2 separate regions of the Homo sapiens genome follow, and region 2 is linked to region 1. Evidence: fine-mapped expression QTL. A gene starts in region 1. The other region holds a variant in brackets. All regions are shown on one strand. Distances are from middle to middle. Region 1 holds the start of TCN1 (transcobalamin 1). Region 2 has its middle 19 kb from the start of OOSP1.

What was found.
Region 2: its variant is fine-mapped to the expression of TCN1 in whole blood (TOPMed, PIP 0.92).

What each region holds. Positions count from the first base shown.
Region 1 is chr11:59,859,425-59,875,231 of GRCh38, reverse strand. It overlaps TCN1 (transcobalamin 1), which reads left to right and starts at 8,745. Exons shown (of 9, transcript NM_001062.4): 1 at 8,745-8,840; 2 at 11,146-11,325; 3 at 12,510-12,650; 4 at 13,550-13,705. The coding sequence starts at 8,762. RefSeq lists a silencer at 2,029-2,229.
Region 2 is chr11:59,911,301-59,927,107 of GRCh38, reverse strand. No RefSeq gene overlaps it. Among named protein-coding and RNA genes, the nearest start is that of OOSP1, 19 kb to the left of the region's middle. RefSeq lists a silencer at 5,479-5,639. The variant T/A (reference allele first, on the strand shown) is at 7,865.

The DNA.
Region 1 (15,807 bases):
TTGACTCCTCATGAAAACCTAGGAGATAAGAACTATTTTCTACATTTTGGAGACCTAGAGAAATTAAAGATTTATTGAAGGTCACAGAGCTATTAAAATGGCAAAGATGGCTATACTGATAAAGAAGTAAGTTTGCAATGGAAAACTAAGAATTCAATTTTGGATATGCTGGTTTTTAAATTGCAATAAGACATCCAAGTAGAATTACAGAGAAGGCATTTGGCTATAAGTTGAGACTCAAGAGAATCTAACATAAAAGTGAAAACTGGGAAAATATTAGTCTATTTGAAGGTTTGAATGTGGGTGAGAACACCTAGAGAGAGTGTGTAGCATGAGAAATAATATAGGTACAAAGCTCTGAGGTCATACAACATTTAAAGTTTCAAAAAAGATTGGCAATGAGTACAAAGAAGGAGTCAAAAAAAAACTGGGAGAAAAATTACGGGGCTGAGAGTTGATGATATTGCAACAGAAAACGTGGGGAAAATGTATCTAGAATTTGAAGGAAGAATCAACTATATTCAGTGATTTTTAAGAATTCAGGTAGAAAATACAACCCACAGAATGGGATAATATTTGCAAATTAGGTATCTAGAATATACATAAAGAACTCTTACAGCTCACTAATAAAAAGATATATGGAAACCCAATTAAAACAATTAGTTCTGAATAGTTTTCTCTTTAAAAAAGATGCCAGGTGTGGTGGCTCATGCCTGTAATCCCAGTACTTTGGGAGGATGAGGAATGCAGATCACTTGAGGCCAGGAGTTCAAGACCAGCCTGGCCAACATGGCGAAACCCTGTCTCTACTAAAAACAAAATACAAAAATTAGCTGGATGCAGTACCACACGCCTGTAATCTCAGCTGCTTGGGAGGCTGAGTTATGAGAGTTGCTTGAACTCAGGAGGTGGAGGTTATAGCTAGCTGAGATTGTGCCACTGCACTCCAGCCCGGGCAACAGAGCAAGACTGTCTCAAAAAAAAAAAAAACACGTGTGTGTGTGTGTGTGTGTGTGTGTGTGTGTGTGTGTATTTGTATATATATTAGATATATACAAATATCCAATAATTTCATGAAAAGATGTTCAACATCATTAGTCATTAGAGAAGGTAGAGACAATGTTACCAAAAGACCCAGCAATTCCACTCCTAAATATACATGGAGAGAATTGAAAATGTCCATAGAAAACTTGTAAACAAATGTTTATAGCAGCATTGGCCAAAAAAAAATAGAAACAACATAAATGTCCATCAACTACTGAAAAGAGTCAGGTATGGTGCTCACACCTCTAGTCACCAGCACTTTGGGAGACCAAGGTGGGCAGATTGCTTGAGCCCAGGGTTTCAAGACCGGCCTGAACAACATGGTGAAACTCCATCTCCACAAAAAATTCAAAAATTAGCTGGGCACTGTGGTGCATGCCTGTAGTCCCAGCTACTCAGAGGCTAAGGTGAGAGGATCACCTAAGCCTGGGAGGTCGAGGCTGCAGTAAGTGGTGTTTATGCTGCTCTCTAGTCTGGGTGACAGAGGGAGCCCCTGTCTCAAAAAAAAAAAGACTACTACCAAATAGATAAATAAAATGTTATATATCCACATAATAGAATATTATTTGGCCATTAAAACTGAAGTTCTGGGCCGGATGTGGTGGCTCACACCTGTAATCCCAGCACTTTGGGAGGCTGAGGCAGGTGGATCACCTGAGGTCAGGAGTTCAAGACCAGCCTGGCCAACATGGCTAAACCCCGTCTCTACTAAAAATATAAAAATTAGCCGGATGTGGTAGCGGGCACCGGTAATCCCAGCTACTCAGGAGGCTGAGGCAGGGGAATCACTTGAACCCGGGAGGTGGAGATTGCAGTGAGCCAAGATCTCACCCTTGCACTCAAGCCTAGGCAACAAGAGTGAAACTCCATCTCAAAAAAAAAAAGAATGAAGTTCTGATACATGCTACAACATAGATGAAACTTGAAAACATTATGCTGAATGAAAAAACTAGTTACAAAAGACCATATATTGTATGATTCCATTTATATGAATGTCCAGAAAAGGCAAAGTATAGGGACAGAAAGTAGATAAGTGGTTTCCTAAGACTGGCAGGACTGATTAGTCACTGCTGATGGGTATGAGGTTTCTTTTGAGGTGATGAAAATGCTTTATCATTGATTATGGGGTGATAGTTTGCACATATTTGTGAATACACTAAAAACCATTAAACTATGTACTTCAGTTCAGTGAGATGCCAGAAATTTGTGGCCAAAGGCTAAGAGAGATAAGAATTTAGAAGGAGATTTACTATGTACAATATTAAATTGCCTCTAGAACCATCATTAGGATTGGATCCCATTATGCCCCAGGGAGACAAGTACAAAATCTGTTCCAGCTCACCTGGCCTCTTTCTTTCCTGGAAAGCCCAGAGAATACAACCTTAACTAGACATTAACATATGAATTAGTAAAGGGAAGTTGTTGGGATTGACAGTGAAAGATTTAGCCATTGAAATTATCTCAGTCACTATAATGTGATTCCAGATTAGCCAAAATTAGATGGCAGTACCTAATCATCAAAGACAAGTTGTAGAAATTACCATAGCTGTCTACAGAATCAGAGTGACAATAGAAGTGCTTTGATCCACAGTGATTTATGACATCATCCAACAAAACATGAGGTAACGGGGAATGAAATAGATGGTCAGCTGATTAAAATATTGCTTGAACTATATAACTGGAAAAAATTCTAAGTATAGTGTATTATTTTTCTACTGCCACATAAATAACTACCCCAAGACTTAGTGGCTTAAAACAATCTTTTTCTCACAAATCTATGTGTAGTAGCTTGGGCTAGCTTTAGCTAGGCACTTCTACTGGTCTTGGCCAGTGTTATTCATGTGACTTTAGTCATCTGGTAGCTCAACTAAAGCTAAATAATCTAAAGGCATTTCATTCAATGTCAGGTAGTTGGCAGCCTACAGCTGGCATGTTTCAGTTCTCCTCTATATGACCTTTCTAGAAGGTCACAGCTATAACAACTAGAACATGAGCTCAGTTTTATACACATTGTGGATCACAGAATTCAAAACACAAAACCCAAAGCAGAAGGAATTTTTAAATTTCCACCTATTTCATATTTGCTAACTACCTCTTTCATATTTGCTAACTACATCTTGACCCAAGACAGTCACATGACCAGGCCTCAATTTAAATCTAAATTTAGAAAGATGTTCTATATGAAGATATAAATTTTAGAAACACTAGCATATAGGTGTCATTTAAAGCCTTGGGATTAAATGAGAGCAACATAGGAGAATGAAGAGTTTTAGACACTGAACCCTAGAAGATTGCAACATTTAGAAGTCAAATATATTAGGAGAAAGTAGCAAGAAAAGGCCAAAAAGGAAGAGTCAGAAAAGTAGAAAAACTCCAGAAAAGGATGGTGTTCCAGCCAAATGAAGTAAGAAAAAGAGAGTAATCAACTATCAGTTCAAGTAAAATGAGAATTTAGAATCACTGTTGGAAGCAGCAAAGTAGAAATGACTTGTTAAAAACAAGTTTTAGAAAAATATGTAATAGATACACAAAACTTCAAGAGAAAGGAATTGAAGCATACAACTACAAAGTCATCAAATCACAAAGAAAGCAATAGAAGAAAAAAAGGAAAAAAGAACTATAAAACAGTTAGAAAACAATTCACAAAATGGCAATGGTAAGTCCTAACTTATCAAAATTACTTGAAACTTAAATGGATTAAATTCTCCAATCAAAAGACAGAGTGGTTGCATGAATAAAAGACAAGATTCTTGGCCAGGCGTGGTGCCTCATGCTTGTAATCCCTACACTTTGGGAGGCCGAGGTTACAAGAGACAAATAAATTGTTACAAGAGACAAAGAAAATCATTATATAATGATAAAGGAGCCAATTCATCAAAAAGATATAAAAATTATAAATATTTATGTACCCAACATTGGGTGCTTAAAGCAAATATTAACAGAACTAATGTGAAAAATAAACAGCAAAACAGTAACAGAGGTGACTTTAATACCCCACACTCAACAATGGATAGATAATCCAGACAGAAAATCAATAAGGAACTACCATATTTGAACAATACTTAGACCAAATGGACCTAACAGACATATACAGAACATTCCATCCAACAGCAGGGGAGTACACATTCTTCTCAAGCACATATAAAACATTCTCCAGGATAGATCACATTAAGTCACAAAATAAGTGTTAACAAATTTAAGAATATTGAAATTATATCAAGTATCTTTTCTGACCCCAATGGTATGAAACTGGAAATCAATAATGTGAGAAAAATTGGAACATTTACAAATACATGGAAATTAGATAATTCACTCCTGAACAATCAAGGAGCCAAAGAGGAAATTAATGAGGAAGTAAAAAGTATCTTGAGACAAATGAAAAGGTAAACTCAATATCTGAAAACATATAGGATACAGCAAAAGCAGTACTGAGAGGAAAATTCATAGTTATAAATGTCTAGATTAAGGAAAAATAAAGATTTCAAATGAACAAACTAAGTTTAAACATTAAGGAACTAGAAAAAGAATAATCTAAACCCAAAGTTATCAGAAAGAAGGAAACAACAAAGATCAAAGCAGAAACAAATAAAATAGAGAATAGAAAAACAATGGAAAAGATCAACAAAACTAAAAGTTGGTTTTCGGAAAAGATAAAAAAAAATCGACAAACCTTTAGCTAGACTAACCAAGAAAAAAGAGAGAAAACTCAAATAAGTAAAATTATAAATGAAAGAAGTGAAGACATTACAACTGCTATCACAGAAATACAAAGAATCATAAGAGACTACTATGAACAATTATATGCCAGCAAATGGGATAACCTAGAAGAAATGCATAAATTCCTAGAAACACACAATGTGCCAACAATGAATCATGAAGACATAGAAAATCTGAACAGACCAAAAATATAAATAAGGGGACTGAATCAGCAATCAAAAACCTCCCTACAAAGAAAAGCCTAGGACCAGATGTTTCACTGGTGAATTCAACCAAATACCTAAAGAAGAATTAATGGCAATTCCTCACAAACTGTCCCAAAATATTGTAGAAAGAATATTTCCAAACTCATTTTACAAGATGAGTATTACCCTAATACCAAAGCCAGATAAGGACACTACCAAAAAAAAAAAAAAAATCACAGGCCAATACCCATAATAAACATAGATGCAAAAATCCTCAACAAAATACTAGCAAACCAAATTCAACAGCACATTAAAAAAAAAGCAAAAAAAAAAAAATCAATCAAAAAAATTTAGCATCCTTTCATGATAAAAAAAAACTCTCAACAAATTGGGTATAGAAGAATTCTACTACTGAGCCATTAAAAGGAATGAAATAATGTTAATAATAAGTGAGAAAATATTTTTTTTGGTTTTCTACTCCTGTGTTGCTTAGAATAATTGCCTCCAGCTCCATCCAAGTTGCTGTGGAATATTTGAGAAAATATTTGCGAACCTATATCTGAAAATAGATTAATATCCAAAATATGTAAGAACCATGCAATTCAATAGCAAAATGAAAACAAAAACAAAACAAATAACCTGATTTTAAAATGGGCTAAGGACCTCAACATTTTCCAAAGAAGACATAAAAATGGCAAACAGGCATGAGAAAACATGCACAATATCACTAATCATCAGAGAAATTCAAATCAGAATAATCACATCACCTTATACCTGTTAGGGTGACTATTATCAAAAAGACAAAAGATAACAAAGTATGGATGAGGATGTAGAGAAAAGAGAATCCTTTGTGTTTGCAGAATGTAAATTTGCACAACCATTATGGAAGACAGTGTGGTGGTTCTTCAAAAAATTATAAATGGAACTGCAATATGATCCAACAATCTTAATTCTGGGTACATATCCAAAGGAAGCAAAAGCAGTGTTTCAAAGAAATATATGTACTCCCGAATGGGCACGGTGGCTCACGCCTGTAATCGCAGCACTTTGGGAGGCTGAGGTGGGTGGATCACCTGAGGTCAGGAGTTTAAGACCAGCCTGATCAACATGTTGAAACCCTGTCTCTACTAAAAAAAAATAGAAAAGTTAGCCGGTGTGGTGGCAGATACCTGTAATCCCAGCTACTCTGGAGGCTGAGGCAGGAAAATCACTTGGACCCGGGAGGTGGAGTTTCCAGTGAGCTGAGATTGCACCATTGCACTCCAGCTTGGGCGACAAGAGAGAAACTCTGTCTCAAAAACAAACAAACAAACAAACAAACAAACAAAAATATATATTATATAAAATATGTACTCCCATGTTCATTGCAGCATTATTCACAATATCAAAGACATAGAAACAACCTACATATCTGTTGATGGATGAAGGGATAAAAATTGTGATTTATATACACACACACATATATGTGTGTGTGTGTATATATATATTTATATTTATATAATAGAATAGTATTCAGCCATAAAAAAGAAGGAAATAGTGCCCTTTGAGACAGCATGGATGAACCTGAAGAATATCATGCTAAATGAAATAAGTCACAGACAAATACTATGATCTCATTTATATGTAGATTCTAAAAATTATCAAATACATGGAAACAGAGAGTAGAATGGTGGTTTCCACATAAGTTTTATATAAATATGTGAGAGAGAGAAAGAGATTTATTCCAAGGAGTTGATTCATGCCCTTATGGAGGCTAAGAAGTCCCACAGTCTACTGTCTGCATGCAGTAAAAGTCAGTGGAGTGATTCAGGCCAAACTGAAAGCCCAAGAACCAGGGGAGCCGATGGTGTAAATCTCAGTTTGAGGGCTGGAGAAGATAAGATGTCCTAGCTCAAACAGGCTGGCAGGAAGCAAAAAAAGGGTGAATTCCCCCTTCCTTCACCATTTTATTCTATTCAGGGTCTCAATAGATTGATTGATGCACACCTACATTGGAGACGGCATTCTACTTTCCAGAGTCCACCAATTAAAATGCTAATCCTATCTGGAAACACCCTCACAGATACATCGAGAAATAGTGTTTAATCTGGGCACTCAGGTGCCAGTCAAGTTGACACAGAAAATTAACCATCACAGAGGTACAATGCAAATAGTGGCTCATTAAGTCATGACATCCTTAGCTAGGCTGACAGTATTCTCTAATAGTTCTCAGAAGAACTGTGATAGGCAACACTTCTCACATGTAGCAACTGCCCTGGCAGGGCAGAAATTCACATTTGATGTATAGCTCTCTGGTTTTCCTCCTTGGTTAGGAAACTCTCATGGAATCTATCTTAGGAGAAAAATCATAGTTTGGAAACCACTATGCCAAAGATCCCCTCATGTGCTGGGTTCTCCAATACTGCCTGCTTCAATTTCAGACTTACAACTTTTACTTCCGTTTTTAAATTTTTTTATTTCAATTTTTGTAGGTACATAGTAGGTGTATATATTTATGGGGCTCATGAAATGTTTTGATACAGGCATGCAATGCGTAATAATCACATCATAGAGAAGGGGGTATTCATCCTGTCAAGCATTTATCCTTTACGTTACAAACAATCCAGTTATACTATTAGTTATTTAAAATGTACAATTAAATTATTATTGACTATAGTCACCCTGTTATGCTACCAATAGTAGGTCTTATTCATTCTTTCCAATATTTTGTACCCATTAACCCTCCGCATCTCCTTCCCACCACTAGCCTTCCCAGCCCCCAGTAACCATCTTTTCATTCTCTATCTCTATGAATTCAATTGTTTTGATTTTTAGATCCCACAAATAAGTGAGAACATGCAATGTATGTCTTTCTGTGCCTGGCTTATTTCACTTAACATAATTATCTCCAGTTCCATCCATTTTGTCACAACTGACAGGATTTCATTCTTTTATATGGCTGAATAGTACTCCATTGTGTATATGTACATTTGCTGTGTTCATTTATCTGTTGATAGACACTTAGCTTGCTTCCAAATCTTGGTTATTGTAAACAGTGCTGCAACAAACATGGGAGTGCAGATATCTCTTCAATATACTGGTCTTCTTTCTTTTGGGTATATAGCCAGCAGTGGGATTGCTGGATCATATGGTAGCTCTATGTTTAGTTTTTTGAGGAAGCTCCAAACTGTTCTCCATAGTGATTGTACTAATTTACATTCCCACCAACAGTGTACAAGGCTTCCCTTTTCTCTACATCCGTGCCAGCATTTGTTATTGCCTGTGTTTTGAATAAAGCCATTTTTAGCTGAGATGAGAGGATATCTCATTGTAGCTTTGATTTCCATTTATCTGATGATCAATGATGTTAAGCACCTTTTCAAGCACTTTTTCATATGCCTGCTTCCCATTTGGATGTCTTCTTTTACTTCCATTTTTATATGTTGTATGTGTTTGCATGATCAAATCTACTTTATCAGGAAACATAAAACATAAAGTGAAACGGAAAAAAAAGGAAAGATTATAGGAAACAGTCATTTGCCTAATATATCTTCACTGCACGGAAGGCAAATAATAGATATGAAACCCGAAGGTTTAGGACAGGAGACAAAGGAAAGTTATTGCCTTATTCTCCCTAACCACATCCTTCAAGTCTTCTTCCTTATTTATTACATCACATGGACAAATACACTTGACCACACCTCCTGACATTGCTCAATATTTGCTTGAGTGAAAAGAGGCTGAGGCAACCTGAAGGAGGAGCTCTCATTACCTTCTGCCCATCACTTAATAAATAGCCAGCCAATTCATCAACATTCTGGTACACTGTTGGAGAGATGAGACAGTCACACCAGCTGCCCCTAGTGGGGCTCTTACTGTTTTCTTTTATTCCAAGCCAACTATGCGAGATTTGTGGTGAGTAAACTTTGAGCTAAAATTACTCTAGAGTGATAGTCTACTGAAAACTGTTGACAAGAGACTCTATGTAGAGTTACCTGAGAAAAGATCCCATTCCAGTTTCGTATGTGGTTGGACTCCATGAATGATGAAAAGGGTGGCAGGAGATGGTGAGGAAAGTCTCACAATGCATGTTGTTGTAAGAGGAATTATAGATTGTGTATTCACTTGCCTAACTGCTCTTTCTATGCTCAGATCCTCTCTAGCACAGCATCCCTACCAAGTAACTCCCTATTCATGTGACTTTTCAATGACAGAAAATTTATGCTCCCAGAAACTTTTCTAGATCATGGAAAGTTATCTTTTGGTCTTGATATGCAATCTTTTTTCCCTGAAATTCAATGCATGATTTTTGGGTTAACCCCTTGTAACTACATAGAAAAAAATAATAATCTCTTTCAAATAGTGATGACTGCTGTCTTGTCATGAGTGAGTTTAGATGTTCCAAGTTGCATGTCCACCTTCCTTCAACTCTTTCCCAGGACACATGGGATAAAGTTCCATCATCTCTTGCATGGGTGTTGACCCCAGAGATTGTGTGGTTCTGTAAAAGAACTTTAAAGTAAGAGAAGGGAAAACTAAATTCAGGTTTAGTTTGATCCCTTAGTTATTGAATGACCCAACATTTCTGAATTTCTTTAGCTTCATTCATAAATAAAGGATAATGAGGGGAGACTATTGAAGCAAATTATCTCATGAAGTCTGGTGCAGTTCTCAAGTGCATGAATTCTCTTTTGTGAGACTTTACTCTGAAATTGAGCTTCAAACCAGTCCAAAGATTACTAGGTGGTACTATCTGTGCTCTCTAACCAGTAAGAAGAGAACACCACAGAAGACAGGCTTGTATACATACAGGCTAAAGCATAGACTCTTCTGACTCTGATTTTTCTTCTTGGCTTGACATTTCCCCTGTTGGATCCTAAGAATAGGGAATGGCTATGTAGGTTTTAGCTTTCAATTCATTTTAAATAATAATGATAATAATTAAATTTATCTTTGAGACTCAAGGAAGCTGATTTGAGTTGTTGATCAGGAACTAAAAAGTCTGTTTCAGGGCCAGAAAATCTGCTGAGCTGGATGGTTCCACAAAATCTCAGAGAACTGACTCACAATTGTTCCATTGTGTCTGCAACAAACCATGACCTTTCTACAATCACTCTATTCAGATCTTCTTGACTCATTCTTTTAAAGTAAAGAAAACTGGGCAAGAGAAATTACATTTCCTTGATTCTCAAGTATAGTGATAAAAACTCCAGTTGAGCTGGAAATAATAGTATGTGCAGCATTTTACAGTTTATTCGGTGGTTTCTTGTCCAATATCTGTAAGGTAAGTGTTAACAGCCACAATTTTTAAATGAGAAAACTAAGAGTAAAACAAGTTACATAAGTTATTATCCACAGTCATAAGTTAAGGAGCACAAAATGTGGCCAAAATCTGAATCCAAACCTCATGTTCTTCTCACTCTCCCACTAATCCATTAGATAATCTGGAGATATGTAGGATTTGGGGCTACTCCTCAAGATTATGGAAAAATACATTGACAAAGTGTCCTGTGTTTAAATAAATAGTAAATCTTTTTATTCTCCTCTATTTCCTTGGGAGCTATGGATTTTCCTACTTCCACAGTATAATGTGACTTCCCTCCATCTCTGGAATTGGGGCATATTGTAGGCTAAAACTGGAGAGTTTTTTACAGGCTGCATAATGCTAAATAATGATCTCGATGCCCAGCCAGCTGGGTAATCAGACAATGAAGTTTTGGGGTCAATCACCAGTATAACACAGAATTATTACCTGCATTTTCTCAACATTAACCCAGTTGATTTAGAAGATGGAGAAGGAAAGAACTGAATCCAGGAAGTAGAAAGTCCTGCTTACTGAGAGTCAGAAGACATGTAGTCTAGTTTCAGCTCAGCCTCCAATTATGGAAGTTTCTTTAAGGACAATCTATCTAAGCTTCATATACAAAATTAGGGAATGATGCTAGATTTCCCAGGCAGGAGTCTGCCAGTACACAATGATAAGTCTGCACCAGTTGTTAAAATATTAAAACATTTTCATGTTGGTTGTTAAAGGAGTAATGTCTGGCATGGGGGTGGGTTCAAGACCCACCTTTGTATTATTCCACCAACACAGTCTGCAGCCACTGGATTGGTCTAGGTCTGTGCCATATCTGTTACTAAATATTTTTATATAACCCCTGCTGCAAGTCTTACTATTTTCTGAGTATGTGTTTCTTATTTCCTTCCTTCTCTGCCACAGAGGTAAGTGAAGAAAACTACATCCGCCTAAAACCTCTGTTGAATACAATGATCCAGTCAAACTATAACAGGGGAACCAGCGCTGTCAATGTTGTGTTGTCCCTCAAACTTGTTGGAATCCAGATCCAAACCCTGATGCAAAAGATGATCCAACAAATCAAATACAATGTGAAAAGCAGATGTAAGTTGCTGTATATTCTGGAAGATTTAGAAAAAAATCTACCTATTTAAAGATTATCTGCAACTAATCCTAAAAAATTATGCATCCAAAGTATCCCTGCTACATCCCTTCTAATGGTACCAAACTTGAGGTAACAGAAACATGCCCAAAATACAATCCCATGCCATTCACCCTAGAGCTAGGTCTTGCTTCTTTTGGTCTTAAAAACCACTTTTCTTCAAGAAGCCACAAACAAAAGCTATGGATTTTTATCCATTAATGCTGTTATATAAGCTAGCTTAGTTCACAACCACATGGGAATACAGATCATAACTAAGAAAGCTGGTGATGGAAAGGCAACCATGGAACAACCCAGATTTGAACTAGGTATGGGTGGGCCTTGAACCAGTCATGTTAATACTGAGCCTCAGTTTTCTAATTAGTATAAGGGGAAAAGAAGCCACTCTTACCTACCTCATAATATTATTATAAGAATTATGAGAATCCTGAGAGTTTGGATACTCTAAAAGGCAGAACATTAAAAATCAAGAATTACTATCCTAGCAAGCTGGTACCACAAAGAAAAAAAAACCCAAGATCTTGTTGTTTATCTATTTTTCCTCTTTTTCACTTTCATAAGGATTGTATGATTCCAAAACGATTCTGTGATTTTTATGGAAAAGACAAAGATTTAGTTTGCATTTATACAGTACTGCTCTAAAAGGCTCTGCTTTGAGGATAAAGAAGAGAGGAATCAAATATTCATACAGGAATGCATCACATAATGATGAATATATATGACGGTGGTCCCACAAGATTTTAATAGTGTATTTTTATTGTACCTTTTCTGTGCTTGGATATGTTTAGATACACAAATACTATTGGGCTACAATTGCCTATAGTATTCAGGACAGTAACATGCTATACTGGTTTTTAGCCTGAGAGCAACAAGCTGTACCCTATAGCCTAGGTGTGTAGTCAACTATACCATCTAGGTTGTGTAAGTACACTCTGTGATGTTTGCACAATGACAAAATCGCTTAACAACCAGTTTCTCAGAATTTATCCCTATCATTAAGCGACACAAGACTGTATAGAGCGCAACAGAAGAAAAAAGTGATAGGCAATATAAGTCTCAAGGAAATCAGGAGGCCCAAAAAATCACAAGCCTGTACCTTATTAAGCTTGAATACTTTTCTTTTCAGTGTCAGATGTAAGCTCGGGAGAGCTTGCCTTGATTATACTGGCTTTGGGAGTATGTCGTAACGCTGAGGAAAACTTAATATATGATTACCACCTGATCGACAAGCTAGAAAATAAATTCCAAGCAGAAATTGAAAATATGGGTAAGAATTAAATATTTAGAGACCCTAGACTACCTTGTCTTCTCCTCCACTGATTCAAAACTATATGAAGTTTCCCTCCACTCTTTCCTTCTCTTCATCCCGTTCATCTCACTATGTCTTTGAGGGCACTTCCCTTTTTCTCTTTCAGTATGCATCTTGAATTTTCTTTTTAAATATGTTCAGCTGAGCATTGACCCTATGTCAAGTACTACTTTACATATGATGGCAGAAACACACACACACATACACACACACACACACATGCACACACACAAGTCACCATTCTCTAATCGTCCAGGAGCTTGGCTTTAAGTCAAATGATGAATTACACCAGAAATAGCTGAACAATACAGGATACAGTGTCATAAGTACCAAAATATACAATGCTAGTATATGAGCTAAAGGTGGCCAGAGTACATTATCACTGGGAAAAATCAACCGGCCATGGTGGCCACTAGTGAGGTGCACTGTTTTTATTTCAGTTCCCACCCAATATTTATTCTATTTTTCAGTAAGTCCATTTTCCTTTGAGATGGCCTCTAACCTAGGTTTCTACTTACAGTTTCAACACCTTACTATTGAAAACGCAAGAGGCTTGGAGGTTGAAAACCTGTATTCTGGCCCTAACTCTGTAACCATCTGAATATCTAGATAGCATCTTAATCTCTTTAAGACTGTGTCCCCTCAGTTATAAAATGAAAGAAATTGAGCGGAATTTAGTGGCCCTTAAAAGCCCTCACATTTCTCAGGTTTTCTGATTCTATGGGTGACCTCCCCCTTCTATTAGCCACCTTTCCTTAAATGTAAAGAAATTAAAATAGAGTAAGTAGGAATAGATGGAAAATGCATACGCCATTACCACTTCCATGATTAAGGGAGGTATTTCTTCTCTTTTCTAGAAGCACACAATGGCACTCCCCTGACTAACTACTACCAGCTCAGCCTGGACGTTTTGGCCTTGTGTCTGTTCAATGGGAACTACTCAACCGCCGAAGTTGTCAACCACTTCACTCCTGAAAATAAAAACTATTATTTTGGTAGCCAGTTCTCAGTAGGTGAGTTACTAAGCCCAATTCCCTTGGTACAGAGGACATGGTCACCAGTAGGTCTTGCTCTTTGAGTTTTTCTACCAGTAAGTACCTGGATTTTATTTTCTACCCTCTTTGCTCTAGTCCCCTCAAAAGGGAATTTTCTTTTTGAGAAGAATGGATGATGGATGGCATTTAAGCTTCTTTCTAGATGTGTGGTATAGTAGAAATACCCGGTTTCTGCTCCAGCTCTTCTTTGGGTTATATAAACAATGAATGTTAACTCTTGATCTTAATTTTTCCATTTGTAAGATGAGGATAAGGCATGAGAATATCCACATGAAATATTTTAGAAAGGGTAAGTTTTAGAAAAGGGAAATGCAATGGAATTCGTTTATCTTAACACTGTCTCTTTCTCTAGTTTATTGGGACAATTTGGATACCTCGAGAGTCTTGAACAATACCACCTCTCCAGTGACAAAGTCCAATATTTTAATCAATAGATTGTATATTCACCTTGGGAAATGAACCAGAAATTTCCCACTGTGTCAGCCTTAATATCCATAAAGAAGTCTTTAGACAGTTAGTATAGGTGCTTAGCCTCTATGGATCCAGATATACAAGTTCATCTTTCTCCAAATTCAAAGTTCAAATTGAAGTTCAAAGCAAATCACCATGTAGTATTTCTGGATAGTAAGGAGAATGTGAGATTTCTCAGACTTCTTTTCCCATGAGAGAGGAAAGGTCCCATGCTAAAGAACACAGGAGACACCAAGTATCAAGCCAGAAAACGTGTCCTTATCTTTCCTTCTTCCAGTCTCTTGCCTCATCCTCTTTTGTAAAGAGGTTTACTGGGCAACAACTCTGTAAAGTACTATTTTCTAATCAGTCTAATGAAACCCTTGAGAGCCTTACAAAGACAGTTTATTTGATTCAGCCTCTTAGGTTTTCTCAATCCCTCAGCCAACATGGCTAAAAGATTAGAGAAAGATGGAAAAGATGAGAGCAACCAAGATGTAAAAGTGAAATACTGTCCATGTGTATGCACCTACAAATCCATAGGTGTTTTATGACCAAAATATGTGTAAAAAAAGAAACCCAGAATTGTATTTAAAAAAAAAAAAAGGCAGGGTGCAGTGGCTCACACCTGTTATCCCAGCACTTTGGGAGGCCGAGGCGGGTGGATCACCTGAGGTCGGGAGTTCAAGACCAGCCTCGCCAACATGGTGAAACCCCGTCTCTACTAAAAATACAAAATTAGCTGGGCGTGGTGGCTCACTCCTGTAATCCCAGCTACTCAGGAGGCTGAGGCAGGAGAATCACTAGAACCCAGGAGGCAGAGTTCGCAGGGAGATCGGACCACAGCACTCCAGCCTGGGCAGCAAGAGCGAGACTCCGTCTCAAAAAAAACCAAAAAACAAAAAACAAACAAACAAAAAACACTCCAGACAGCAGCAAGAGAGCTTTAGAGATTCGTGCTACATCCCACCCTAAACTGCTTTTAAGCTAATTTCCTGGCTTTTTACCTGCTATGTGTGTGTGATGGGTCTCTTTTCCTTGGCAAGTTCTTAGATGCTTTCCAGGATGTTTGGATTCTCAAAGACACCTGTTCCTCAGCTGGGCTCCATGGCCTGGGCTTCAGACAGTTCAGGCAGCAGACATATCTTTGCAGGGCACTTCCCTTTTTCTCTTTCAGCATGCATCTTGAATTTTCTTTTTAAATATGTTCAGCTGAGCATTGACCCTATGTTAAGTACTTCTTTACATATGATTGCAGACACACATACACACACATACAAGACACCACTCTCTAAACCTCCAGGAGCTTGGCTTTAAGTCAAGATGAACTATAGCAGAAATAGCTGAACAACACAGGACACAGTGTCATAAGTACCAAAATATACAATGCTAGTATATGAGCTAAAGGTGGCCAGAGTACATTATCACTGGGAAAAATAAACTGGCCATGGTGGCCACTAGTGAGGTGCATCTCCCTTAAGTAACCTTAAGTGGGAGACCCATCGCACTACAGTATGAGGTATGAACTATGGAGTACATGGCAACTGAACATTGGGAAGAAATCTTTAAATATTTGAGTGGTTAGTGCTGGAGAGATGATTGCTGTATCT
Region 2 (15,807 bases), 52 kb before region 1:
TGTGGCACAATGGTAGTGTCATTTACTAAGGCGCTCAAGTAGGAGTAAGGAGTAGTAGTCTGAATTTTGTCAGGAGCTATAATTAAACCAGCATGAGAAATCAAATTTTGCAAGTGATCATAACATTGGAGTAATATTTCTCGAGTGGGGGTAGCACAAATTATATCATCCATATAGCGAATAATGTAACACTGTGAAAATTTTTTACAAGTAGGTTCAATTGCTTGCCCCACGTATGTCTGGCAAATTGTTGGGCTGTTTGACATGCCCTGCGGCAACACTTTCCAATGATAACACTTAACAGGCTGCAGGTTGTTTACTGCAGGATTGTAAATGCAAACCATTCACAGTCTTGCTCAGCCAAGGGGATAGTAAAGAAACAGTCTTTTAAATCTATGACTATTAAAGGTCAATTTTTTGGAATTATAGCAGGAGAAGGCAATCCTGGCTGTAATGCTCCCATAGGTTGTGTAACTGAATTGATGGCTCTTAAGTCAGTTAACATTTTCCATTTACCTGATTTTTTTCTTAATTACAAAAACTGGAGAATTCCAAGGGGAAAATGTTGGAGCTCTGTGCCCATTTTCTAATTGTTCAGCAACTAATTTCTCTAAAGCCTCCAATTTCTCTTTACCTAGCAGCCATTATTCTATCCAAATTGGCTTATCTGTTAACCATTTTAAAGGTATAGGTTCTGGAGGCTTAACAATGGCCACCATCAAAAATTATTTCCTAATCTTTGGCGGGAACTTTGTTTTTCTGCTTGAAGCGGTTCTTTCAAACCTTGCAAATTTTTTTCTAGTCCCATAGCAGGGACATACCTCATTTCATGCATTGTATTTTGACTTTAAGGGCTATATGATTGTTCTGGAATTAGAACTTGTGCTCCCCATTGTTGTAATAAATCTCTTCCCCATAAATTTATAGGTACAGAAGTTATAATTGGTTGAATAGTTCCAGGTTGTCTGTTGGGCCCTTCACAATGCAAAATATAACCACTTTGATATACTTAGCAGCTTTACCAACTCCAACTATGTTAAATTGAGTGGGCTGAATTGGCCACATGGACGGCCTGTGCTGTAGAGAAATGATTGAAATGTCCACTCCTGTATCTACCAAACCTTTAAATTTCTTACCTTGAATAGTTATTTCCCAGGTAGGACATTTATCAGTAATTTGATTTACCCAATAAGCTGCTTTGCCTTGTTTATTTGTGCTTCCAAATCTTCCTGTTCATTTAATTTCACTTCTTCCCATTCCCACATACAGCACAATCAGGAGCTGTGCTATGCACTCTCCTGGCTCTGCTTTCCAGGGAACAGAAGTAGATACAACAATTTGAATTTCCCCATTGCAATCTGAATCAATGACTCCTGTATGTATTTGTACACCTTTTAAACTTAAACTAGACCTTCCTAAAAGTAATCCTATAGTCCCTGCTGGCAAGGGTCCATAGACTCCTGTTGGGACCTTTTGCAGGGGTTCCCCAGGCAGAAGGCTCACAGCTTTTGTGCAGCATAAATCTATTGTGGCACTACTGGCTGTGGCAGGGGACAGACATTTTATGGGGTGAGGGAATGGCCTGAGATGGAAATGCCCTGGTTTAGAATGGGGCCTGGGATGGGCCCCTCATGGCGTTTCCTGAATTGGGTTCCTTCTTTATCAAACTTAGAGTGATACTGACTAGCTCAATGTTTTCCTTTTTTACATTTTGGACATATCTCAGGCTCAACAGTTTTCTTTTTTCACCTATCTGGCGGCCTGACTTGCTGATTTTTTCTACATTCTTTTTTAGTATGACCATGCTTCCCACAGTTAAAACAAGCTCCAGGAAATGGAGTATTTCCTTTATCCACTCTCAGTCCTGCCATTGCCTGTGCCAACAAAGTAGCTTTATGCAGATTACCTCCGATACCATCACAGGCCTTGATATAATCAACTAAATGTGCTTTCCCTCTAATAGGTCACAGAGCAGCCTGGCAATTGGGATTAGCATTGTCAAAAGCTAATAACTGCAACACTATATCCTGAGCAGCCAAATCTGCAATCATCTTTTCAAGAGACTCCTGTAACCAAGCTATAAAATCAACATGTGGTTCCCTAGGTCCCTGTTTTATAGCACTAAAGGAAGGGTATTGTTCCCCACCTGAAGTGATTTTTTCCCAAGCTCTAATGCACACTCCTCTAAGCTGTTCTATGGCATCATCCTGCATGATGAGTTGTGCACCTAGCCCAGCCACCAACCCCCAAAAGTTGGTCTGCAGTTATATTAATTTGAGGTTGGTCCTGGGCATTGCAAGCAGCCTGAATGGAAGCTTCATCTGCCCACCAAGCTTTAAATTGTAAGAACTGAGCAGGAGTTAGACAAGCTTGAGTAAGAGCATCCCAGTCAGTAGGAATCATCCGACTGGAAACAGTAACATTCTTTAACAGTCCCATTACAAAAGGAGAACCTGGTCCATACTCATTTATAGCTTGTTTTAATTCTTTGAGTAATTTAAAAGAAAAAGGCTCAAATGCAGCTGTAATATTTCCCTCTTAATCTGGGGGGGTGTATTCTAACAGGGAACTGTGAAGCCTCTAAGTCACCCTCTTGTCTAGCTTGCTGAATTCCTGCCTGAATAGAACTAAGAGCTGTTGCTCGAGGCACTGCTGAAACAGTCACTGGGGCAACTACTTTTTGCCCAGTGTCCTCCAGAAAAGAAAGATCTCAGGGGTCATTTTCTTCAAAATAATAATGAGGGGGTGCAGAAGGGTAGGGATGAACCTCTCCTTCCTTTGCCACTTTAGCTTTAGCTGGCAAATAAACATGCTCTGTAACCTCTTCTGTTACTTTGCTATACTCTTGTTCTTTCTCCTCATCACTGTGAAAAAGTTCCAAGGTGGAACAAACCAGACCCCAAACCTGTCCCATTGTTACCCTGATACTTCTGAGCTCCCCTTCTTACTCACCATGGGGATTGCTTTAAGAGTACTTGGGTGTCTTCCGTTCCAACCATCACTCCAGCGACCCTTCGACCTGGATTTGAGCCCCATGTTAGGCGCCACTTGCTGAGACCAGCTTAGTCAGGGAGACCCTAACCCAGTGGCGCTAGAGGAATTAAAGACACTCACAAAGAAATATAGATGTGTGAAGTGGGAAATCAGGGGTCTCACAGCCTTCATAGCTGAGAGCCCTAAACAGAGATTTACCCACATATTTATTAACAGCAAACCAGTCATTAGCATTGTTTCTATAGCTTTAAGTTAACTAAAAGTATCCCGTATGGGAAATGAAGGGATGGGCTGAATTAATTGCAGCAGGAACATGCCCTTAAGACACAGATTGCTCATGCTTTTGTTTGTGGCTTAAAAATGCCTTTAAGCAGTTTTCCACCCTGGGCAAGCCAGGTGTTCCTTGCCCTCATTCCCATAAACCCACAACCTTCCAGCTTGTGCATTAGGGTCATTATGGACATGTTACAGTGCTGCAGAAATTTTACTTATGGCCAGTTTTGAGGCCAGTTTATGGCCAGATTTTGGGGGCTTACTCCCAATAGCCAGGTACCTTTTCACAATCCCTTTTTAGTAGGCACTCTCTTCATTTTTAACTTTATATAAGACAATGTTTATGAATAAAGTTTATTTTATCTCATTAGATGTCTATCATTACAGTCTATAATTTAGTAAAAGTTGGATTAAGTGTTAAAGGCTGAGCTCTGGGGCCTTCTAATGTTAGGGGTCAGGGAGATGAACAGGAACCAGCAAACACTAAGAAGAAGTCGGTGAGGTTATACTGGAGGAAATGAAGAAAGTGTGGCAGCCTGGAAGTCAAGATAGAATACTAGTAGTGAAAATAGACAAGTGCTACTGATAGATAAAGCAAGATGAGGATTGCAAAGCAATCCCTGGACTTAGCAAATGTGGAGAGTAATTGCTGAAGCAATGTGAAGAGCAATTGCTGATTTTAATAAAAAGCAGTTTGGGTGCAGGGTGGGAGTGAAAGTCCAATTGAAATGAGTTTAAGAGAGAAGGGGAAGAAAGGAATTGGAAAGAGCATTGGCAACATTCAGAGTAGTGTAGCTATAACAGGAGGAAAGAAAGAGAGTGAGCCCAAGTAAAAGCTCACTCTCTCTCTCTACCCACTCTCCCTCCTCTTCCTCTGCCTCTCCAAACAAATCTGCCTGGTGGAAACTTTTAGGTTGGGATGTTGGTATGAAATAGAAATTTGCATGCTCATAAAAAGCATTTATCAGTTTAGTTACTGTCCCTGATTCTAATCGAGTGATACTTTGGTTACCCATTTTCTCAGTTCCCAGTGCTGAAGCAAGAATTAAACCTTTCTGGAGCCATAGCTCTAACACTCACAAGTTCCCACCTGAAACCTGCAGTCCTTCTTAAATGCTCTGTGCCAAGGGTAGTATTTCTGCTAGAGATGATACCCCAAACTCAAGGACACAGTATGCAGCTGCTGCCTGGATCTGGTCAATCAGAAACTGCATTTACTTGGAACAGACAACACTATACATGTATAGTGTTATCTCAAAGATATATTAACACTCCTACCCCCTCCCATAATATATTCCAAAGATTCCTGGGCCATGTGAACATATCAAGGAATATCACAGTGGCACACTATACTGACAATATTGTACTAACTGAGCTGGATAAGCAAGAAGTAGCTGGTACATTGGGAGAATTGGTAAGACACCTGAGTTCCAAAGAGAGGAGATAAACCCTATAAAATTTCAGAGGCCCAAACAGATTGAAATTTTTGTGTCCGGTGGTCTGGGACATGCTGGGACATTTCCTGTAAAGGACAAATAATTGTGTCTTGCATCTCCCACCATGAAGATGAAAGCATAACCCTTGTTAATATCCACCAAGGAGCATCCACCATGGAAGAATTTCTATACAAATAGGTGGACAAAATGACTTGGCCAGTTGACATTGGCCAGTTTCTGTCATTAGCCATGCCATTGTTAGCACAAGAGAACCCAAACAGAATAGCTGTGGTGGCAAGGATGGAGGCTATATCTGGCTTAATAGCATGGGTTCTGACTTAACAAAACTAATCGAGTTACCGCTGTTACCAAATGTCCAACCTGACAATAACCCTAAGTCCCTGAGATCACATATCACTGGAAGAGACCAATCAGCAACTTGGTGACAATTTGACCACATCATATGCCTACCAGGTATAGGTTTGTCTGCAGGGCCTTAGTCAACACTACTATCCAAGGGCTTAGAGTATTTAATTCACCACCAGCATGATACCAGATAACATCATGCCAGACCAATGGACTCATTTATAACAAGAAGTGCAGGGCAGGACACATGATCAAGAGTTCCACAGGTCATATCATAAACCAGACCATCCAGAAGCTGCCCACCTGATGGAGAAATGCAATGCCTATACAAGGTGCAACTAAAGTGCCAGTGCAAAGACAATTTTCCTGCTGCAAACAAGAAATATAAAAAGATTCCCAAGCTTTTTTTAAAAAGACACTGATATGGCTTGGATTTGTGGCCCTCCCAAACTCATGTCAAATTGTAATCCCCAGTGCTGGAGGAGGGGCCTGGTGGGGAGGTGATTCAATCATGGTAATGTATTTCCCCCTTGCTGCTTTCATGATAGTGAGTGAGTTCTCACAAGATCTGGTTGTTTAAAGGTGTGTAGCACCTCCCCCTTCACTCTTTCTTTCTCCTGCTCCCACCATGTAAGACATGCTTGCTTCCCCTTCGCCTTCTGCCATGATTGTAAGTTTCCTGATGCCTCCCAGCCATATTTCCTGTACTGCCTGCAGAACTTCTTTTCTTTATAAGTAACCAGTTTCAGATATGTATTTATAGTAGTGTGAGAACAGACTAATATAGACACATTACAATTGGAGAGTAATAAGAATGAAGGCTGATGTATCAGAAGGAAATAGGGAGAACAGTAGACAAAAATTCATGTTCAAAATGCTGACTTAAAAAATAACAATCTAGGCTTCAATATCCAGTGAAAATTACAATTTCTAGTGAATATAAACCGAATAAAAAAGAATAATCATATGACCACCTCAGTAGATGCCTTTTCCCAAAGGCATCATAAGATACCCAGTCATTTTTGGAGAAGGTGTTCCTAGCTATCAATGTCCTGTTTCCATACATTTTCTCCAAGAAAGCACAGCCTTGTTAAGAAACTGCAGTTTCCCAGATCACATATTTCTATGGAACTAAATTTTAAGTATGTGATATTTGTTACTGACATTTTACTATCTTAAAGGCATTTCTGTGCAAGAAAATTTTAATTTTATTTTGTTCTAATAAGTATTATATTGATGAAACATATGTAAAACTTTTTAAAGTATCTCAACCTATAAATCCTATTTTTTCAAGTATTAAAATCATTACTTTTTTTACTTTTTCTTTGATTAATGTACAATTAATCCAAGTTTACAAATGATGTCTTCCCTACTCATCTGATGCAATTTAATGTCAATATCCTCAGATATTTTAAGTATAGTTACATATTTAATATATCTGATTCTCTCAAATGTTTCAAATTTCTAACAAAGCAGACTTACTAATTAGAATAAACTCTCCCAATGACTTAAATCACACTCATAAATACAAACTGAAACTTAGATATTTAGTAGCTCAAATCCCCTTAAGCATCTTAAGTCACAGCACCCATAAAGCAGCATAGTGACTGGAAAATGTTTCACCACATCCCTATAAACACAACATGCACACTTTATACCTATTTTTTTCCACATGTTCCTGGGGTTACAAGTTTACTCAACCAAACAAGGAAAGCAAAATCATCACCTAAGTTCCAGCCAAGGTTACATTGTCAGAAACCAGGACTGGCAGTCAAAGAAGGAAGAATGCAGCAGAGGGCACCGGGGGAAGGAAGAAAGTCCATGAGAGGCACAAAAGAGAGAGATGCAATTCCTTTATTGCATGTAGAGATTATTAAACAAAGCTCTTGAAAAGAGATGCACTGCAGGAATGTAGGCATCACTTTAATTGTAAAACTGATTTTATGGTCACAAAAGCACCTACATGGAAATGAAAAAAAAATACCTTTTCAACACCCTCACCATCTAAAAGGTAAAGTACAGTATCTACAACCACTGCATGAGCATTCAGACAGCACGTAGGCCTGAGATTCCATCAGTAGTAAAATCAGCATCTCTGATGCCCAAATTCACTCTTGTTCCATTATGACTGGGGGCATATAAAATGCCATTAATACGGAACTAAAAATTAAAATTACAAATAAGCATTATATGGGTTTTAGGCTAGTTGAGATGCTAGTGACCTGGAACTGACCCAGAGACCAAAATGTAATTATAGGGCTGGATTTAGCAGCAGCAGCCTTTTCCATTTATTAACCCCTAATACTCATATGGAGCTGTCATGCCATCCCCCATCTCCAACACCCACGTGCTAATTTAGGATAATGGATTGTGGCAGAGACCTTGTTCTCTGCTAAACTGCTGTGGTTAATGGAGAGTCCAGGCCTCTAAAATAGCTTTGCCATCATACCATATCATTATAATTTCTTATTAGATAGAAACAGTTCGTTTAAACAGGACAGTCTTAGGCTTTGCCTAAAAGTTTAGTTACTAGAACACAAGAAAGTTAATGTAGGTCTTTCTCAATCCAGCTTTTCCTAGTGGCTGTTAGCCAGAAAAATATAGGCTGCACAAACATTTTAACTCTTTCTCTCTCTTTCCTTTATCTATCTGATGTGCCGACTCAGTCTTGCCTAAAGATAATAACTGCTTATCTTAGATCTGACTCATGGATGGGTCAGAATAAACTTCTAGTTTTAAGAGATACTCACAGAGAGCTGAATGGTGGCATTGCCAATTTTTTTACCTTGTTATTG[T/A]TCTTCTAATATTTAAACATGATGTCATGAGCTGCCTTCCCTGCAGATGGCACTGTTTAATGGGTTTAGAGGAAGGAAGCCACAGGGCCCTTTGGAAGGAAAAAAAAAGTCTGGGGTGAATTTTTATTCACTCATCTAACAAATATTTGAGCATCTCCTCCCATTTTTCATTGAATCTAAGCTTTAACTATACCACTATTTTTCATACGAAGATTAAGGAAACTTTATATCTTTAGGATTAAAGAAACTACCAATGAATCAGGCACATTTTACTACTTAGTCTTTGAATTTTATAAAAATTGAAAGAGCTCTTATGGACATCTTTAATCATATCACTCTTGTGCTGTATACAAAAGCAAGTGTAACAAAAAGCAAGTATAAACAAAATTAATTGGTTGAAGTAACCCTAAAATATTTTTACAGTGAGTCTCACTCTTCTAAATCACTTCTTGGATCGCAGTCATCAATGTTCCTGTTTCCCCACAAATATATCTCTCTTTGAGCCATCACCACCATTGGTGATGCAATATCTCTTAAAAGAATGCTTCATTCTTCTCTCCAGATTGTATGCCAATTGGTGGTACTTATTTCTCAAATTTTTATGCCAGCACTCTCTGACCTTACCAAGAGGCGCCAACAGAAAGTTTCAGACCAAGTTCTCCATGTGCAAATGATGACAGCTACAGCATTCCTGTCCACTGACCAATCATTATATATAGCTGATTATAAACTTTCTAGAATTCTGATTTTTTTACTGTGTAAAAAACTGTCCATGTCAGAGTAAATGAAATATATCATGTGCCAGTTCTCTTCTATGCACTGGAAACCTCATGTAGGTGACATTATAAGGAAAGAATACAGAAAATAAAAAATAAGCAAATTATATATCACATTAGATGGTGATAAATACTGTGAAAGAATAAGGCAGGTAAAAAGTTTAATGTAGGACAGAGGATAGGATTTTAAGTAATTTTTTGAGTCAGGGAAGGCCTCATTTAAGCAGAGTTCTTTAGTTGTCAAAGGAACTGATCATAGAGGAAAAGGTGTGACATGGGTTGGCTGTGTCCCCACCCAAATCTTATCTTGTACTGTAATTCCCACATGTTGTGGGAGGAACCTGGTGAGAGGTAAGTGAATCATGGGGGCAGGTCTTTCCTGTGCTGTTCTTGTGATAGTGAATAAGTCTCACGCGATTTGATGGTTTTAAAAATGGGAGTTTCCCCACACAAGATCTCTTCTCTTGCCTGCCACCATGTGAGACCTGCCTTTCACCTTCCACAATGATTGTGAGGCCTCCCCAGCCATGTGGAACTGTAAGTCTATTAAACCTCTTTCTTTTGTACATTGCCCAGTCTTGGGGCATGTCTTTATCAGCAGCATGAAATGGGCTTATACAGTTAATTGGTACCAGTAGAGTGGGGCACTGCTGAAAAGATACCTGAAAATGTGGAAGCAACTTTGGAACTGGGCAACAGGCAGAGGTTGGAACAGTTTGGAGGGCTCAGAAGACAGGAAAATGTGGGAACGTTTGGAACTCCCTAGAGTCTTGCTGAATGGCTTTGACCAAAATACTGATAATGATATGGACAAGGAATTCCAGGCTGAGGTGATCTCAGATGGAGATGAGGAACTTGTTGAGAACTGGAGCAAAGGTGACTCTGGAGCAAAGGTGACTCTTAACATTTTAGCAAAGAGACTGGCAGCATTTTGCCCCTGCTCTAGAGATTCGTGGAACTTTGAACTTGAAAGAGATGATTTAGGGTATCTGGCAGAAGAAATTTCTAGCAGCAAAACATTCAAGAGATGACTTGCATACTGTTAAAGGCATTCAGTTTTATAACAGAAGCACAGCATAAAAGTTTGGAAAATTTGCAGCCTTACAATGTGATAGAAAAGAAAATCCCATTTTCTGAGGAGAAATTCAAGCCGGCTGCAGAAATATGTATAATTAATGAGGAGCCAAGTGTTAATCCCCAAGACAATGTGGAAAATGTCTCTAGGGCATATCAGAGGTTTTCACCACAGCCCCTGCCATAACAGGCCCAGTGGCCTAGGAGGAAAAAGTGGTTTTGTGGGCTGGGGGCCCAGGGTTCCCATGCTCTGTGCAGTTTAGGGACTTGGTGCCCTGCATCCCAGCCACTCCAGCCATGGCTGAATGCAGAGTTTTGGCATGGCTTCAGAGGATGCAAGCCCCAAGCCTTGGCAGCTTCCATGTGGTGTTGAGCCTGTGAGTGCACAGAAGTCAAGGACTGGGATTTGGAAACTTCCACCTACATTTCAGAAGATGTGTGGAAACATCTAGTTACCCAGGCAAAAGTTTGCTGCAGAAGCAGGGTCTTCATAGAGAACATCTGCTAGGGCAGTGCAGAAGGGAAATGTGGGGTCAGAGCCCCCACACAGAGTCCCTACTGGGGCAACACCTAGTGGAGCTGTGAGAAGAAGGCCACCATCCTACAGATCCCAGAATGTTAGATCCACCAACAGCTTGCACTGTGTACCTGGAAAAGCCACAGATACTCAACGCCAGCCCATGAAAGCAGCCAGGAGGGAGGCTGTACCCTGCAAAGCCACAGAGGCAGAGCTGCCCAATACTGTGGGAGCCCACCTCTTGCATCAATGTGACCTGGATTTGAGACATAGAGTCAAAGGAGATCATTTTGGAGCTTTAAGATTTGACTGCCCTGTTGGATTTGGGACTTGCGTGGGGCCTATATCTCCTTTGTCTTGGCCAATTTCTCCCATTTGGAATGACTGTATTTACCCAATGCCTGTACCCCCATTGTATCTAGGAAGTAACTAACTTGCTTTAGATTTTACAGGATCATAGGCAGAAGGGGCTTGCCTTGTCTCAAATGAGACTTTGGACTGTGGACTTTTGAGTTAATACTGAAATGAGATAAGACTTTGGAGGACTGTAGGGAAGGCATGATTGGTTTTGAAATGTGAGGACATGAGATTTGGGAGGGCCCAGGGGTGGAATGATATGGTTTGGCTGTGTCCCCACCCAAATCTCATCTTGAATTGTAACTCCCAGAATTTCCAAGTGTCATGGAAGGAACCTGGTGGGAGGTAAGTGAATCATGGGAGAGGGTCTTTCTCATGCTGTTCTCATTATAGTAAATAAGACTCATGAGATCTGATGGTTTTAGAAACGGGAGTTTCCTGCACAAACTCTTGTCTGCTGCCATGTTAGATGTGCCTTGGCCGAGCGCGGTGGCTCAAGCCTGTAATCCCAGCACTTTGGGAAGCCGAGGCGGGTGGATCACAAGGTCAGGAGATCGAGACCATCCTGGCTAACACGGTGAAACCCCATCTCTACTAAAAAATACAAAAAAACTTAGCCGGGTGTGGTGGCGGGCGCCTGTAGTCCCAGCTACTCAGGAGGCTGAAGCAGGAGAATGGCGTGAACCCGGGAGGCGGAGCTTGCAGTGAGCCGAGATCGCGCCACTGCACTCCAGCCTGGGGGACAGAGCGAGACTCCATCTCAAAAAAAAAAAAAAAAAACGATGTGCCTTTCACATTCTGACATGATTGTGAGGCCTCCCCACACACGTGGAACTGTAAGTCTATTAAACCTCTTTCTTTTGTAAATTGCCCAGTCTCAGGTATGTATTTATCAGCAGCATGAAAACAGACTAATACAGAGGGCCAAGGAGAATTCCAGGCAGAAGGAACATCAGATGCAAAGGTTCTAAGGCAGGAGCATGCATTCAATGAATGGCAAGGACATCAGGTAATTAAAGTTGAGTTAGGAGGATGGAGCAGCAAGGTAGATAAGGGATGGCACTTTCTAGCCCTCTTCCCTGGGAGACAATACAGAGTGCTAGGGCTTTGTGGGCCATAATAAAGACCATATGACTTTTACTGTGACCTGGATAGATATAGAATGAGGGGTCTTCTGCAGAGGATGCCATGATCTAACTTGGTATTATAGATTGAATTGTGTCTCCCAAAAAGATATATTGAAGTCCTAACCCCTAGTACTTTAGAATATGACCTTGTTTGGAAATAGGGTCATTGCCTATGTGATTAGTTAAGATGAGGTCATGCAGGAGTAGGGTGGGCACTTAATCCAATGTAACTGATGCCCTTATAAGAAGAAGGAGCACAGCCTCATGAAGACGCAGACACACAAAGGAAAGCACTATGTGATAAGTGGCAGAGATTGCAGTGATATGGCTGCAGGGTAAGGAAGCCAAGGATTGGAGGAACAATTGGAAATTAGGAAGAAGGAAGAAAGGACTCTGCTAAGATTCTCAGGGGAATCATGGCCCTGCTGACACCTTTATTTTGGACTTCTAGCCTTCAGAACTGTGAAAGAATAAGCCCCCCAGTTTTTTTAAGCACCCTGTGTTGTTTTAAGCCCCCCAATTTGTGGTGCTTTGTTACAGCAGATTTGGAAAATAAATACACTGGGTATTAACAGAATGGCTCTGGCTGCTGTCTTGAGAATATTTAATAGATTCTCAAGGACCAAGGAAAAAATACCAGTTAGGCAACAGCTGCAATTATCTGAGAAATACAGCAGCCTGTCACAAGTTAGTAGTGGTAGAAGCCACAGAACTTTCTGCCAGACTGAATATGGTGTAGAGATGAAAACAGCTGCCGTGTACTGAGATACAGGAGGGGAGCCAGGAGGGGATCCAGGAGGGGAGCAGGCTGGGGCTGGGGACAAAATTATAAATTCAGTCAGTTCTGAACTTTTTTTTTTGAGACAGAGTCTTGCTCTGACGCCAGGCTAAAGTGCAGTGGCGTGATCTCGGTTCACTGCAACCTCCGCCTCCTGGGTTCAAGCGATTCTGCTGCCTCAGCCTCCTGAGTAGCTGGGACTACAGGTGTGTGCCACCACATCCAGTTAATTTTTGCATTTTTAGTAGAGACAGGGTTTCACCATGTTGGCCAGGATTGTCTCGATCTTTTGACCTTGAGTGATCTGCCCGCCGTGGCCTCCCAAAGGCTGGGATTACAGGCGTGAGCCACCACGCCTGGCCTCAGCTCTCAAATTCTTAAGATGCCTGCTACTTCTCAGTGGAGATGCCAATTAGGCAATTCTTTTAGAGTTTATCCTGTTATTTCTCCTGGTTCTACAACCTGAGTTTGTTTGTTTGTTTTCTCCTTTTTATGGCCTGTAAGTATTCTCTGCCACCACTCAAACTAGATGCTCCACTGACCACACTTTGAGGAACACTAGCAATAGGATCACAAAATCACAATTAGTGGGCCAGACACTAGGCAAATGTGTCATTGTTATTGACAAGGTGCACCATTGTCAAAAGCTAAAGGTGCCTGGCAAGGTGGCTCATGCTTGTAATCCCAGCATTTTAGGAGGCCGAGGTGGATGGATCACCTGAGGCAGGAGTTCAAGACCAGCCTGGCCAACATGGTGAAACCCAGTCTCTAATAAAAGTACAAAAAAATTAGCCAGGTGTGGTGACAGGCACCTGTAATCCCAGCCACTCAGGAGGCTGAGATGGAAGAATCACTTGAACCCAGGAGGCGGAGGTTGCAGTGAGCCCAGATCGCACCACTGCACTCTAGCCTGGGCACGACAGAGCAAGACTCTACCACAGAAAAAGAAAAAAAAAAGTAGGTTAAAGGAGAATGGCCTGTCTTTACGCCACTGCCACCTCCAGCCCTCTCTGCACTGCCTACTAAGCAAGTCTCATCTCATGGCAGCTCCCCTTTCTCTCCATGATCCCACCATACTCTTTATCTTGCACCACCTCACATACATCCCCACCTCAGGGCTCTTGTACCTTCTGTTCCCACTGCCTGGCACTTGCCTCCCATCCACTCCCCTGCACATCAACCAACTCAACTCTCGCTTTTGCTGAAGATCTTAACTCATCATTTCCCAAGGAGAATGGTCCTTCCAGAGTGGGTCAAGCCTCCTGTTGAAGTGTCCACATTTCCCTGTACTCTGATCCTTAGCAGTTTACATATGGATGATTCAATTAATGTCTGTCTCCCCTACTAGACTGCAAACTCCCCTAAGACAGGAGCCACACCTTTTTGAATTCCAAGCACTGAGCATGGTACCTGACATGTCACGAGTACTCAAGTATTTTCTGAATGAGTCTGAGAGTGCAAAAAGGAAGTAATTAATGAATCCTCCAATTAGTCCATGGCAGTCTCCTAAAAAAATAATTTTCCAGGTTCAAAGGAAGGGTTGAAAACATGCTGATGGCACCTGAGTTCTCTCTTTAGCCAGAGTTTCTTTAGCTACCTGAGAGAGATCACTCACACCTCACCAAATCACAAAATATTGTGACGGCCTTAGAGGAACAGTCAGACATTTGGTGTCAAAGGGAGGAAGATTTAAAGTAGAAGTTTGATCAGAGCACTAAAATGGAAAACCAAGGAAAGGAGATGGGCTAAGAACATAGTTCAAAAGAATTCAGGAAGGTGTTAAAAAGGAGGATGAGGCATAAACCAAATAGAGTGATGAACTTGAAAAAAACACCGTTTTCCAAAGACATTAACCAGTTAACTGGTCAGACTGAGACCCTCTGGTCTTGGATATTAGCAACAAATGATCCTGTCAATAACACCAGACTAGAAACCCCATCCCTTGGCAGTCATGCAATCAAACCACCATAAACCCAAGTTTCTCATCTACCTGACAATAGCCCAGAAGTAGTAAAAACCAAGGAAAGAAAAAGAATCCACCCTTTTAACCACATAGAGGTCTTCATCTTGCTAAGGCTCGCAGCAAAGACTGTTCAGGAAACAGAAGGAGGTTAAGGTTTGGGATGCCTCACATGATTTTATGCCTGTCACATTGTTCAAGTATAAGAAATTACCTCCTACAGCAAGCACACACCAAAAGAAAACTTTTACAGCACTATCACTTAGCCTCTAGAAAAATAACATTTTATGACAACTTTGGTACTAAAAAGTAAATGTGCATCCCATACAATTAAATAGCTGCTTTCAGTGCCCATGAATCTCAAGCCTTCTTGGGGACTTTGGAAATACCTGAGAGGATGTCATGCACAGGTCAACTGACTCACAGGGCCCTTTGTGGGATCAGTTTAGGGATGCAATAGAGTTTTGTCTTCATTGATGGAGTTCTTTGATAATGCACTTGAAGTCATTATTTCAAATTTAAGGTGAGCCCTCCAGAAAGGTCAGTATGCCAACTCATAGAAATAGAATAGTGGTTACCAGACTTGTGGGGAGGGACACAGGGAAAGGGGAGATATATTAGTCAAGGGGTACAAAATTCAGCTAGGAAGAGTAAGTTCAGGTGTTCCATTTGCACAGCATAGTGACTGTAGTTAATAATAACGTATTCTATATTTCAAAGTTACTAAAATATCAGATTTTAAATGTTCTCACCATTTCTTATCAAAGAAATGATAAGTATGTGATAGATATGTTTATTAGCCTGATTATATCATTCCATAATGTATACAGGTATCAAAACATCACATTGTACCCCACAAATATATATATTTACCAATTAAAAGTAAAATTAAAAAAGACAAAACTGCATGATTTTATTTATATATAGAATCTTAAAAAGTCAAACTCATAGAAGCAAAGTGTAGAGTAATGGTTTCCATGGGGCAACGGTGGGAGGAAAGGGACTGGGGAGATGTTGGTCAAAGGATACAAAATTTCAGTTTGACAAGAGGAATAAGTTCAGGAGATCTATTGTACAACATGGTGACTATAACAATGTCACAATGTACTGCGTACTTGAAAATTGTATACAATTATATAATTATTAATAACAAGGTATTGTATACTTGAAAATTGCTGAGCATTTTACTATATTTTCTTTTTTGACAACTAAATATTGTACATGTTTATCATATACAACATGATGTTTTAAAACATATATGTAGTCTGTGACCACACCACCCCAAACGTGCCTAAAATATGTATTAGTTTGGTGCAAAAGTAATTGCAGTGTTTTGCCATTACTTTCAATGGCA